3 linked regions of the Homo sapiens genome follow. The protein of the gene in region 3 purifies or fractionates together with the protein of the main gene of each other region. This does not show direct contact. Each region holds a gene or a part of one and is shown on either strand. Other genes may lie near its edges. The genes, in order: GLB1, USP19 and RORC.

Region 1 (3,647 bases), on a different chromosome or scaffold from region 3:
ATATTTATGTATGCAATGTGTACCCGGACACTAGAGCCAGACTACCTGGGCTCAAACCCTGTCTCGCCACATACATCTGTGAGATCTGGTAAACCGGCAGGATGACAGTATATTCCTCAGTGTTCTTGTGAGGGGCAAGTGAGTTAAACATAAACTCAGAACTGTGCATGGTGTAGAACAAGTCCTCAACAAATGAGAGCTACTGCTCCATGTCAGGACAGGAATATCAGAAACACCACATCCTTTCCTATCTGTGCACATACACAGCACACACACACGTGCATGCCTGACTACTGACATGTGTATAGGCCTGTACTGTGTGAATATGTGAAGTTCTTATGTTGAAACACACAAAACGGGATCCAATTTAAGGTAATCTGTTTTTTCATGTATCAAAAAATTTGCATATAAGTATAGATCTCTCACCATTTTAGTGGCTAAAATACTATGCTTCTATATAGATATACCATACTATGTACACTGTGCAACTGTTAATCATTTAGATTGTTTGCATAATTGTTTTGAGCTGTATTTATAGGTTATCTAGTCCAAAAGCAAGTCAAATAACGATCAGAAAAGCAGCAGTCCACAGATCAAACCAAGACTATTTTCCATCCTTTTGAACTTCAAGTTAGTGAAGTGGTTTATTCAGCCCACTCAAGTCTAGTTATGATTTAAGTCAGACCATATAATTCAATACCTGCACATTAAAAACAGTGACATCATCATTTGAGTACAAATTTTATTTAACAAAAAGGTAACATGATTCTTCCAAAATAAAAATCACTACCACCTTTAAAGCTTCCATTCCAGCCCTGCAGATATGTATGCACGTTACTGTGCTGTCAGCCCCTCACACATTCCAGGTGGTCCCTGAAGGTGGGGCTTTGGCACTGCAGGGATGCAGGGAAACCTCAGGTGAAAATGCACATCCTAAATTCCTTTTCCATTTCCACATTCCAATCAGTGAAATGTGGCATGACAGGGAGGATCTGTGAGGTATGTTCAGGGTAGAATCCCTCAAAGACACAGGCTTTCATCATCATACATGGTCCAGCCATGAATCTTTGTTTTTTTGCGGGGGTGGGGGCATGAGTCTTTTTTCAACAGGTTTGGAGGGATGATCGTAGGTCACAGATGAGCCAATAACTGGCCTGTCCACGAACGTCACAGCACATAGTTCTGGATCATCACTGCTGCAGGGTGCCCACTCCAGTTCCAGCACGGTGATGGTGTTTGGGGCCGAGGTCATCAGGATGTGCTGGGGCACAAACAAGGTCAACTGAGGGCCCCGGGCTGGCCAATAGCGGCCAAGGTTAAAGCCATTAATCCAGACCTGGCCCTGGAGAGAGAGAGACAGAGAACCATCAACCCCAGATGCACCGAAAGCCCTGAGGAAGGTGGGGGCCCTGATGTAGGGCAGGCCAGCAGCAATGGAGGAAAGAAATGCCCCCAGAAAGGCGAGGCTGACAGCCAGGCCCATGCCAGCCTTGGTTTTAGCTTCTTGCTGGGATAACTGGCCAAGGTGGGAAGAAGGTGGATGCCCCCATCCACCTTCTTTGGGGCAACAAAAACTTGCCCCAAAGACCCACTCCTGCTTCAGGAAAATACAGGTTTGGTCCCTCTGACGGGCTTCAGTGGCCACAGATGTTGGTACCAGAGAACAGTGTGGAAATTTCTGAATTTCATCCTGGTTCCCAGGTGCTGCCTGTACCCACAGACCAGCCTCTCCCTGACTTTTCTGTACACAGAAGACAACTGCTGAACTGCTTCCTTAAATAGATCTTTTCCTTCTTTGTTCTCCTTTCCCAGAGGCAGGTCTTGACCTCACTATCTGCTGTACACCTGGTGAACACAGGGAACAGAGGACTCCAGGGCCTGCATCCTGAGGTCAGACAGGTACCAGGAGTGGTCCCCAAAACAACCCCTCAAGAGGGATAGGGGGGTTTGGGGTGAGGGAGAGGAAGAGGCTTATCCAGTTGGGTGTCTATATTACTGCTATGTTCTAAGGACTCTTACAGGCACCCTCAGAGTTAGGGTGTGGACTCCATGTTTGGTTCAGGAGCAGAGGTGATGCTATAGGTTGCATAAACAATTTCTGTGAGTAGGGGAAGCTGCTTCCCATAACAAAACTGAAAGTGGAGGATAAACTCCTAAAAAACAGGGACCATGTTTAGGTCTGTCTACACAGCCTCTCTGTATGTGCTAAAATTTGCTCAAAGGGGCTGAGTGCAGTGGCTCATGCCTGTAATCCCAGAACTTTGGGAGGCCAAGGCAGGCAGATCACCTGAGGTCAGGAGTTCGAGACCAGCCTGGCCAACATGGTGAAACCCCGTCTCTACTAAAAATACAAAAATTAGCCAGGTGTGGTGGCACATGCCTGTAATCCCAGTTACTCAGGAGGCTGAGGCAAGAGAATCACTTGAACCCAGGGAGGCAGAGGTTGCAGTGAGCTGAGATTGCGCCACTGCACTCTAGCCTTGCGCAGTGACAGAGCAAGACTCCGTCTCAAAAAAAAAAAAAAAAGATTTGCTCAAAGCTCAAAGGCTAGGATCAACAGCTGGCTGAATAGATGGACCATTCTATTACAAAGAAAGAAAGTGAAGATGGGGAGATCACATACACGCAAAAGAAAGAGAAAATCTGGGAGAAGAAAGGAAAACATAAAGGGAGAAGGAAGAGGAAAGAGGAATGGAAGAAGGGAGGGAGGCAGGAAAGAAACTGTGACCTACAATGGCCCAGATATCCTAGGAGACAGCCTGGAGGAGGCCCAGCCATGGCTGACACCTGCTGAGCCCTAATCCTCATCACGTTCTGCAACACAACTCTGCTGCTCACCCCAGGGCTCCTCAGTCTTCTTACGTTTGGGTATTTTTCAGCCTCCAAGTGTCCCCTTTACTTTAGATCCTTCTGAATTTCCTACCTGAGTTCGTATCTGTGTCCTGCCACTTACTAGCTGTCTGACCTTGGGCAGGTCTCAACTCAATTTTTCATACCAGTCATTGGGGACAATGATGATGAAGGAACAGTGTGTGGCCTGTAAGCGGTAGCACTCCTTACATGATTAAAGTGAAAAGATGTTGGTGTTCCAATGCCTACAAAAGAAGGGGGTCCGTGATTAAAAACCACCTGTCTGTTGGATTAAGTCATTTAGAAAGAGGACGACAGTTTCACAGTTCTCAGAACTATTTCACTCTTGTTTTTACCCTGGGATATGTTATCTCATTCCATCCTAAAAGGTATATACAATGACAGCTTTAGCAGGTTTTTATCAGCTTAAAATCTGCCGGTGCCTTGTTTTTGCAGTATTAGAGAACAGTAGCACTTTACTTTTGCGGTCAAGGGGGAAGACAGAGAAGTGGGAGGGCATTACGAGCAGCAGCCAAGGAATGGCACGCACCACACAGGCTTCATGCTATGGTCAGGACACAGGCCAAGCCAACTCTTGACCAAATCGCAGGTGAACAAAGTGGAGGTTTGGTCCTTTCTCAAACCTCAAGTTCCATTTCATAAGCATCCAAGAGATGGGCCCTCACATGCCGGGTGGACTGTGCACCTGGTAGGTAAGCTGGGAATTGTTTTCCCTGGATCCCCTTCCCTGGATGGTTCTGGGTTAGCGTTGGTCAGAAGAGGCCCTTGCTTGAGAT
Region 2 (3,647 bases), on a different chromosome or scaffold from region 3:
GTTTCATTAGGCTGGGTCTCTGTTACCTGCTTATCACCATCAGGAGCTTGTGAAGACCCTCATGATCTCTTGGCTACTCCCACTCCAGAGTTGTTGCTCGATTGGAGGCAGAGTGCAGAAGAGGTGATTGTCAAGCTTCGTGTGGGAGTAGGTCCCCTGCAGCTGGAGGATGTAGATGCTGCTTTCACAGATACAGACTGTGTGGTGCGGTTTGCAGGTGTGTCCATCTGCCCTGAGCACAGTAGTATGTTTGAATCTTCTGATATCTCCTATCCTACCTCATGGACCCTGCTCTGTCCCCAGGTGGTCAGCAGTGGGGTGGTGTCTTCTATGCTGAGATAAAAAGCTCTTGTGCTAAAGTGCAAACCCGCAAGGGCAGTCTCCTGCACCTGACACTGCCCAAAAAGGTGCCTATGCTCACGTGGCCCTCCCTCCTGGTGAGTTCTAGTAGTACAGGGTTGGGTAGGGATACCAGTGTAGTCGACAGGGCCTGACTGCTGTATCTTTGGCAGAAGAAACCTCTAGGGACCCAGGAGCTGGTGCCGGGGCTGCGGTGCCAGGAGAATGGGCAGGAACTGTCTCCCATTGCCCTGGAGCCAGGCCCTGAGCCCCACCGGGCTAAGCAGGAGGCCCGGAACCAGAAGCGGGCCCAGGGCCGTGGTGAGGTAGGCGCAGGGGCTGGCCCCGGGGCCCAGGCAGGGCCCAGCGCCAAGAGGGCTGTGCATCTCTGCAGAGGGCCAGAGGGGGACGGGTCCAGGGATGACCCTGGACCCCGGGGTGATGCCCCACCCTTCGTGGCTGACCCAGCCACCCAGGTGAGAGCTGGGCACCTGTTTGGGTGTTAGGAGATGGGGGGAAAGGGTGTGCACTGGAGTGGGAGCCACCTGGCAGACCCAGGGCTGATTCTTTCCACAATCTTGCCATTAATAGGTTGAGGCTGATGAACAGCTTTGCATACCACCGCTGAACTCCCAAACCTGCCTCCTGGGCTCAGAGGAGAATTTAGCCCCTTTGGCAGGAGAGAAAGCAGTGCCTCCCGGGAATGACCCAGTCTCTCCAGCCATGGTCCGGAGCAGAAACCCTGGGAAAGATGACTGTGCCAAGGAGGAGATGGCAGTGGCAGCAGATGCTGCAACCTTGGTGGATGGTAAAGGTGGGGGTGGGCAGGCAGAGCCCTAGGTTGGGTTGCAAAGTTTGTAGGTGGATAGAGAGTAGCAATAGGCTGGAACCTGTCCTGGTTGGGGCTGAGCCATGGTCTCAATATAGAGCCCGAGTCGATGGTGAACCTGGCGTTTGTCAAGAATGACTCGTATGAGAAGGGCCCGGATTCAGTGGTGGTGCACGTGTACGTGAAGGAGATCTGCAGGGACACCTCAAGAGTACTTTTCCGTGAGCAGGACTTCACGCTCATCTTCCAGACCAGGTGGGTGGGTAGATGATGGGGCAAACAATGCCTCAGGTGGGACAGTATGTCTCATGCTCTTCCTCTTGTCCTTCCTCCTATCCTGCTGTGCCTCTGCAGGGATGGAAACTTCCTGAGGCTGCACCCGGGCTGTGGGCCCCACACCACCTTCCGTTGGCAGGTGAAGCTCAGGTGGGTGGTGCCCGGCCCCACCACTGTGCCTGTCCTACCCCGTGGGCTCCATCTCCCTGGCTCATCTATCCTGATGCTCATTCCTCCTAAGTCCCTGAGTTCAGCCTTTTCCCACAGGAATCTGATTGAGCCAGAGCAGTGCACCTTCTGTTTCACGGCTTCTCGCATCGACATCTGCCTTCGTAAGAGGCAGAGTCAGCGCTGGGGGGGCCTGGAGGCCCCGGCTGCACGAGGTCTGCACACGAGCTCCCTTCATTGCCCAGTTCCACGTGACCAGGACCCAAACCCCTGTCACATGCTGCTAACCACCAGCCCTCTCATTCCCCCTTTTTAAGGTGCAGTGGGTGGTGCAAAGGTTGCCGTGCCGACAGGTCCAACCCCTCTGGATTCAACCCCACCAGGAGGTGCTCCCCACCCCCTGACAGGCCAGGAGGAGGCCCGGGCTGTGGAGAAGGATAAATCCAAGGCACGATCTGAGGACACAGGGCTAGACAGTGTGGCAACCCGCACACCCATGGAGCATGTAACCCCAAAGCCAGAGACACACCTGGCCTCGGTGAGAATTCTGGGGTGGGAAGGACGAAGAATGGAGGCTGGAGAGTCTTGGGGCTGTTCTCTCATGTCGTCTTTGCTCCTGCAGCCCAAGCCTACATGCATGGTGCCTCCCATGCCCCACAGCCCAGTTAGTGGAGACAGCGTGGAGGAGGAGGAAGAGGAAGAGAAGAAGGTGTGTCTGCCAGGCTTCACTGGCCTTGTCAATTTAGGCAACACCTGCTTCATGAACAGCGTCATTCAGTCTCTGTCCAACACTCGGGAACTCCGGGACTTCTTCCATGGTGAGGGCAGGGCCTGGAGCCTGGGTTATGGGCAGAGAGAGTGCCTTTGTTCCTCACACCTTTGCTCGGCTACTATTCCTAGACCGCTCCTTTGAGGCTGAGATCAACTACAACAACCCACTAGGGACTGGTGGGCGTCTGGCCATTGGCTTTGCCGTGCTGCTTCGGGCGCTGTGGAAGGGCACCCACCATGCCTTCCAGCCTTCCAAGTTGAAGGTGATCTGTGACCACTGTCACCCTTGGCTGGAGGGGGCGGGGAGGGCCAGCCAGCTGGGTGTGCAGTGGGTGCTAGGGCTTCATGTTCACACCTTGGCTCCTGTATCCAGGCCATTGTGGCGAGTAAGGCCAGCCAGTTCACAGGCTATGCACAGCATGATGCCCAGGAGTTCATGGCTTTCCTGCTGGATGGGCTGCACGAGGACCTGAATCGCATTCAGAACAAGCCCTACACAGAGACCGTGGATTCAGATGGGCGGCCCGATGAGGTCAGGGTTAGGGACAGAGGGTGGGCATGTCTCATGAGCATCCCAGCCCCTGGTACTCTTTGGTTCTCACCACTCTGCCTCTCAGGTGGTAGCTGAGGAAGCATGGCAGCGGCACAAGATGAGGAATGACTCTTTCATCGTGGACCTATTTCAGGGGCAGTACAAGTCGAAGCTGGTGTGCCCTGTGTGTGCCAAGGTGTGATGGGCTCCCCTGGAAAGAGACCCCCTAGTTCAGCTCAGCTATTCTGGTCACATTAGGTTCAGAGGCATGTGCATCTTAAGGTGCTACAGGGCAAGGTTTGGGCAAAGAAGCTGGCAGGGAGGCCTTAGGATTCTATTTGGGCTGAAGAGCCCACTCAGGGTAGGCTTCCTGACTGAGGGAAAAGTGATGTTAGAGCTCAAAGGTGTTGTAGCAGGGTTGTGGGCACATGGGGTGCAAGTGTGAGGCCAATTCGTAAAGTGGCTAAGCTGAGTAGGGCTTTGAGTGCCAGAAAGAAGGATTGTTATTTCCTGGTGGTCCTCCTGCCCTGTCTAGTGTCCTGAAGCCTGAGAGTTTGCTGGTTGGCTGTGGGGGCCCTGAGAGCCATCAGAAGCCCCGGAATGGGCTCTCTGAGCATGAGCATCTTATCTCCCACTCTGTGTGCAGCTACCCAGTGCCACCTCTACATCCACAGGTCTCCATCACTTTTGACCCGTTTCTTTATCTGCCGGTGCCCTTGCCACAAAAGCAAA
Region 3 (3,647 bases):
CTGGATCTACATCCCAGTTCCCCTGAGCTTTCCATTATGCTGTTCTGTGTACCTGTCTTTTCGGGTACACATTTCAGTGGGCATGTTTGAAGGTGTGCTTGTGGGTGTGCATATGCAAGAAAAGTATGTGTCATTTGTGAGCCTACGACATATCTGGTTGCTCCTGCGTCCACACGTGCATATTTGTATGTTAGTGTCTGCTCATGGGGCACTAGGACCCCGGGTTCTCTCTCCCACTGAACTCACTGTAACCTGTACCTGCTTCCCTACCCCTGTGGTTTGCTGCTGGCCCTAAGCTCATCTCTGCTTTGCCCTGTTCCTGTCAATGCCCACGACTCTCTGCTGAGCTTCATGGGACCACAGGAGGCCTTCTCCCAGCTCTTCCTTGAAAGGTAGCTGGGCAAAGCTTGGGATCCCTGGTTACTGTAGGTGTTTTTAGCATTTCCCAGAGCACATGGGTCTCTTTTCCACCATCACTGACCTGCTGCCTCCCCTCTGAGTGGGGAGCCCTGGGGCGGGACAGGCCAGAAAAGTGAAGAGAAGGGCCAAAGCCCCTTTTAATCTATGACGTGTCTCCCACCAAAGGGGCAAAAGAAGTGGCAGCCTCTCTGGAGGGCGAATGCACATTGCTGTGATCTCACCTCCAGTCCCTGGCCTGGACACTGGTCACATGTAGGGCCTGTTGATGTGAAGTGGGCAGGGAGACCATGGCTTGCCCGCCATTCCCCAAAATATTATTTCCATCATTCTTAAACCATCATCCCTCAGGCCAGACTTGAGGTGAGTCAGAGGCAGTAGCTGACCCTGACGGGGACAGGGCACATGGGTATCTGAAATCCCTTCATTAGCACTCAATTCCTCACCCAACCCCCAGCCACACGTGCCTGCCCAGCAGCAAGCTTCCAGTGCTCACACTGTAAGCTGTGGTCCCCCCAGGACCAGGCGGTAAGTGAGTTTTCCAGGTTCTTTCCAGTAAATTAAGAGCAGATTTTAATACATGGAGGGGAAGAGAGAATAAGAGGGCACTGGGTGTCTGGAACAGGGGCAGAAAACGTTGGGGCCCCCATACTTCTAGTCACTTAGATTCTCCCTCTAGACCTACGTTTTCTTGTCAGCAAGATCAGGATAAAAGTATTATTGCCTGTCCATGGGGTGATTGTAGGTAACAGAGAGTAATGAAATGATATCACCAATGGAAAGCACTGTGTATTCAAGTTACTCCTGAGCAGAGGTCAGGCTGAGAAGACCAGTGGGCCTGGCAAGGCTGAGAGGAGCACTCGGGCCCTGTGGACTCTGTTCTTGCCCAACACCTCCCCCTCCAACACTGTGGCATCTCTCTTTTCAGTGGCCTAAGACCAGAGATGGGAGAAACCAACGTGGGCCACCCAAAAAAGTAAGCGGGAGGGAGATTAGGCCAAGCCGCAGTGGGAACTCGGGCTCTGGCCCAGCAGTCAACCACAGGCCTCCCTGCCTCTTCCCTTCTCCAAGAGCCACATCCGCGTGCGTGTGTGTGCTGACCACATGGTGACCCCAGACACATCTCCCTGCCCCATGCTTGACCCACTGCTTCTCCTGGCCCTAGGAACCTCACAACAGTGTCACCAAGACCTTGACCTTCTCATAGGAAGATGCGGCCAGTCAAGGACCCCCTTCGCAAATACCCATGTTTGGGCGACACCAAAGCCTTGGACTCCAGCCACCTGGTCAGCCCATCCTCCATCCTCCCAGTCCAAGACAGAAGTACCCAGTGAGACAGACACACAAGGCCAAAGACTCTGAGCTAGAATGTCAGACCCCCTAGCCTCACTGAGCTGGAGAGACCAAGAGGTTTGGGTCCAGGAAAAACAGAGACATAGATCTAGGGATGGAGAGACGGCTGCGGAAACACTGAAACACAGAAAATCCACGCTTGTATCCTGGCCTTTGCCCAACCCATGGCCCCCTCAGCACTTCAGGCCCTCTAGTCCTGCTCCCCCCTCCTTCCCCTGCCACCTGCACTCCCTTCAATGCCATCCACCCAAACCTCAGAAAGAAAGTACCAGTGCTGTGTACATGAGGGTGTGTGTTACTTGTAGAGAAGGGGTGGGGGAGAACGGGAAGGGGGCTGGTAGACTTGGGGGTTGGTGAGAGGAGCTGAAAACACCTCTGATGATAACTCACCTTCAAAAGCTACCCCTGGGAGACACGTCCCTGAAGCAGCAGGTGGTGGGAACTCAGATTGGGGAGAAGGAGCTGAGTAATCACAGGATTACTCAAACTGTTGCCCTGGAGCCAGGCCTGCCAGGAACTTACCATCTAAGGGCCTGCCAGTGCCAGGAACTAGAGCCAAGCAAAGGTCAGGAACCTCGAACCAGCCCCTGCACCACTGCTCCCATGGCAGCCCTAACTCTACCCTCGCCTGCTGTCTTGGAAAGATCTTTGCATCTCACCTGCAGCTCTCTCACTGTAGCTCTCTCCTGAGAGAGAGCTTTCTCCAAAAGAAAACTCCAATTCCACATCTTCCAAAAGGAGAGACAAATGCCCAAATGCACCCGCCAGCTCCTTAAGTCATCTAATGACTGAATGACTATGGCTTTCTGCATCTCAAACAAGATTACCTGGGGATCTGAGGTGGGACTCAAGATTCTGCACTTTGGTCAGCTCTTAGTTGGTGCCTAAGCTTACTGGTCTTCAGCTTATACTTTGAGTAGCAAGAACTTAGTCCCTATTCCTGCCTTTTTGCCAGGCTGCTCCTTCCAGGGAGTGGGGCTGGGGTTGGCGATCTTTTCCTGAGCTCATTCTTGCATCTTTTCTGCCATCCAGTGTGACCTCTAAGACTTCATTCTGAGACAATACTAGAAAAAGAAACTGAATCTCCTCTGAATTGCTTTAGAGACTGAAGTACCCCCAGGAGCATCCTAGTAGCTCCTCCTATGAGGGGAAATACGGTAGAGGCAAAGTCCTCCATCCTCCTCTAATCGAGCCTCTCACAGCTGTGAGATTCAATGATAGTGCTTTGAGTACTTCCAGAGCCTGGCCCTGTGCCAGCTTAGGAAGCCAACCCTGGGCCCTGTCCAGGTGCCCTATGCCACAGAGAGGAAGTGGTAGGAGCAGGGGAGGGGCTGCAACCCAGGGGGATCTCTCCTCTCAAACCCCAGAACCACCACCCCCCCACCATCATGGTAGAGAATGGGTTCACACAGAGAAACCCCGGGGTCCTCATCTCCTCCTGGTGCCTCGTCAATCTAGAGCTGGGCCTTTTCCTCTCCTCTTTCTCTCTCCTTTTTCTCCAGTGGATACTGATTAAGGAGAAAGGATAATGATAGACATAAGCATTGGCTGAATTCTTACTCTGTGCCAGGCTTTACATGCATTTTCATTCAATGATCACAACCACCCTGTGAAATAGGCCCTGCTAGTATCATCCTCATCTTACAGATGAGAAAACTGAGGCCTAGAGAGAATAAACAGCTTGACTAAGGTCACACAGCCAGAAGTGGCAGATCTGGCATTTGAACCTAGATCTCTGTAATTCTGCAGCCAGTGCCCTCAAGCCTTAAGCTATATACTTTATGAGGATAAGACGCCCAAATGCACACCGGAGACCTGGGTAGAGGACATGGTTATTTGGCTGTAGGGGTAAAAGTGTGAGGTGATTGTGGTGGTCT

What was found.
Region 1: the proteins of RORC (region 3) and GLB1 purify together in Homo sapiens (affinity purification with mass spectrometry; 2 studies listed by BioGRID and IntAct, with this or other methods). This does not show direct contact.
Region 2: the proteins of RORC (region 3) and USP19 purify together in Homo sapiens (affinity purification with western blotting, with the first as the bait; one study listed by BioGRID). This does not show direct contact.

Annotation. Positions count from the first base shown.
Region 1 is NC_000003.12:32,996,003-32,999,649, forward strand, and holds the end of GLB1 (beta-galactosidase isoform a preproprotein), read right to left. Parts: intron 1,343-3,647; coding exon 1,043-1,342; 3' UTR 615-1,042; downstream 1-614.
Region 2 is NC_000003.12:49,114,227-49,117,873, reverse strand, and holds part of USP19 (ubiquitin carboxyl-terminal hydrolase 19), read left to right. Parts: intron 1-43; coding exon 44-217; intron 218-303; coding exon 304-437; intron 438-512; coding exon 513-815; intron 816-930; coding exon 931-1,147; coding exon of another isoform or gene 1,148-1,153; intron 1,154-1,266; coding exon 1,267-1,423; intron 1,424-1,522; coding exon 1,523-1,594; intron 1,595-1,711; coding exon 1,712-1,827; intron 1,828-1,929; coding exon 1,930-2,150; intron 2,151-2,234; coding exon 2,235-2,430; intron 2,431-2,512; coding exon 2,513-2,646; intron 2,647-2,756; coding exon 2,757-2,915; intron 2,916-3,000; coding exon 3,001-3,111; intron 3,112-3,589; coding exon 3,590-3,647. UniProt on the Homo sapiens protein: Deubiquitinating enzyme that regulates the degradation of various proteins by removing ubiquitin moieties, thereby preventing their proteasomal degradation. Stabilizes RNF123, which promotes CDKN1B degradation and contributes to cell proliferation.
Region 3 is NC_000001.11:151,818,161-151,821,807, forward strand, and holds part of RORC (nuclear receptor ROR-gamma), read right to left. Parts: intron 1-3,647. UniProt on the Homo sapiens protein: Nuclear receptor that binds DNA as a monomer to ROR response elements (RORE) containing a single core motif half-site 5'-AGGTCA-3' preceded by a short A-T-rich sequence.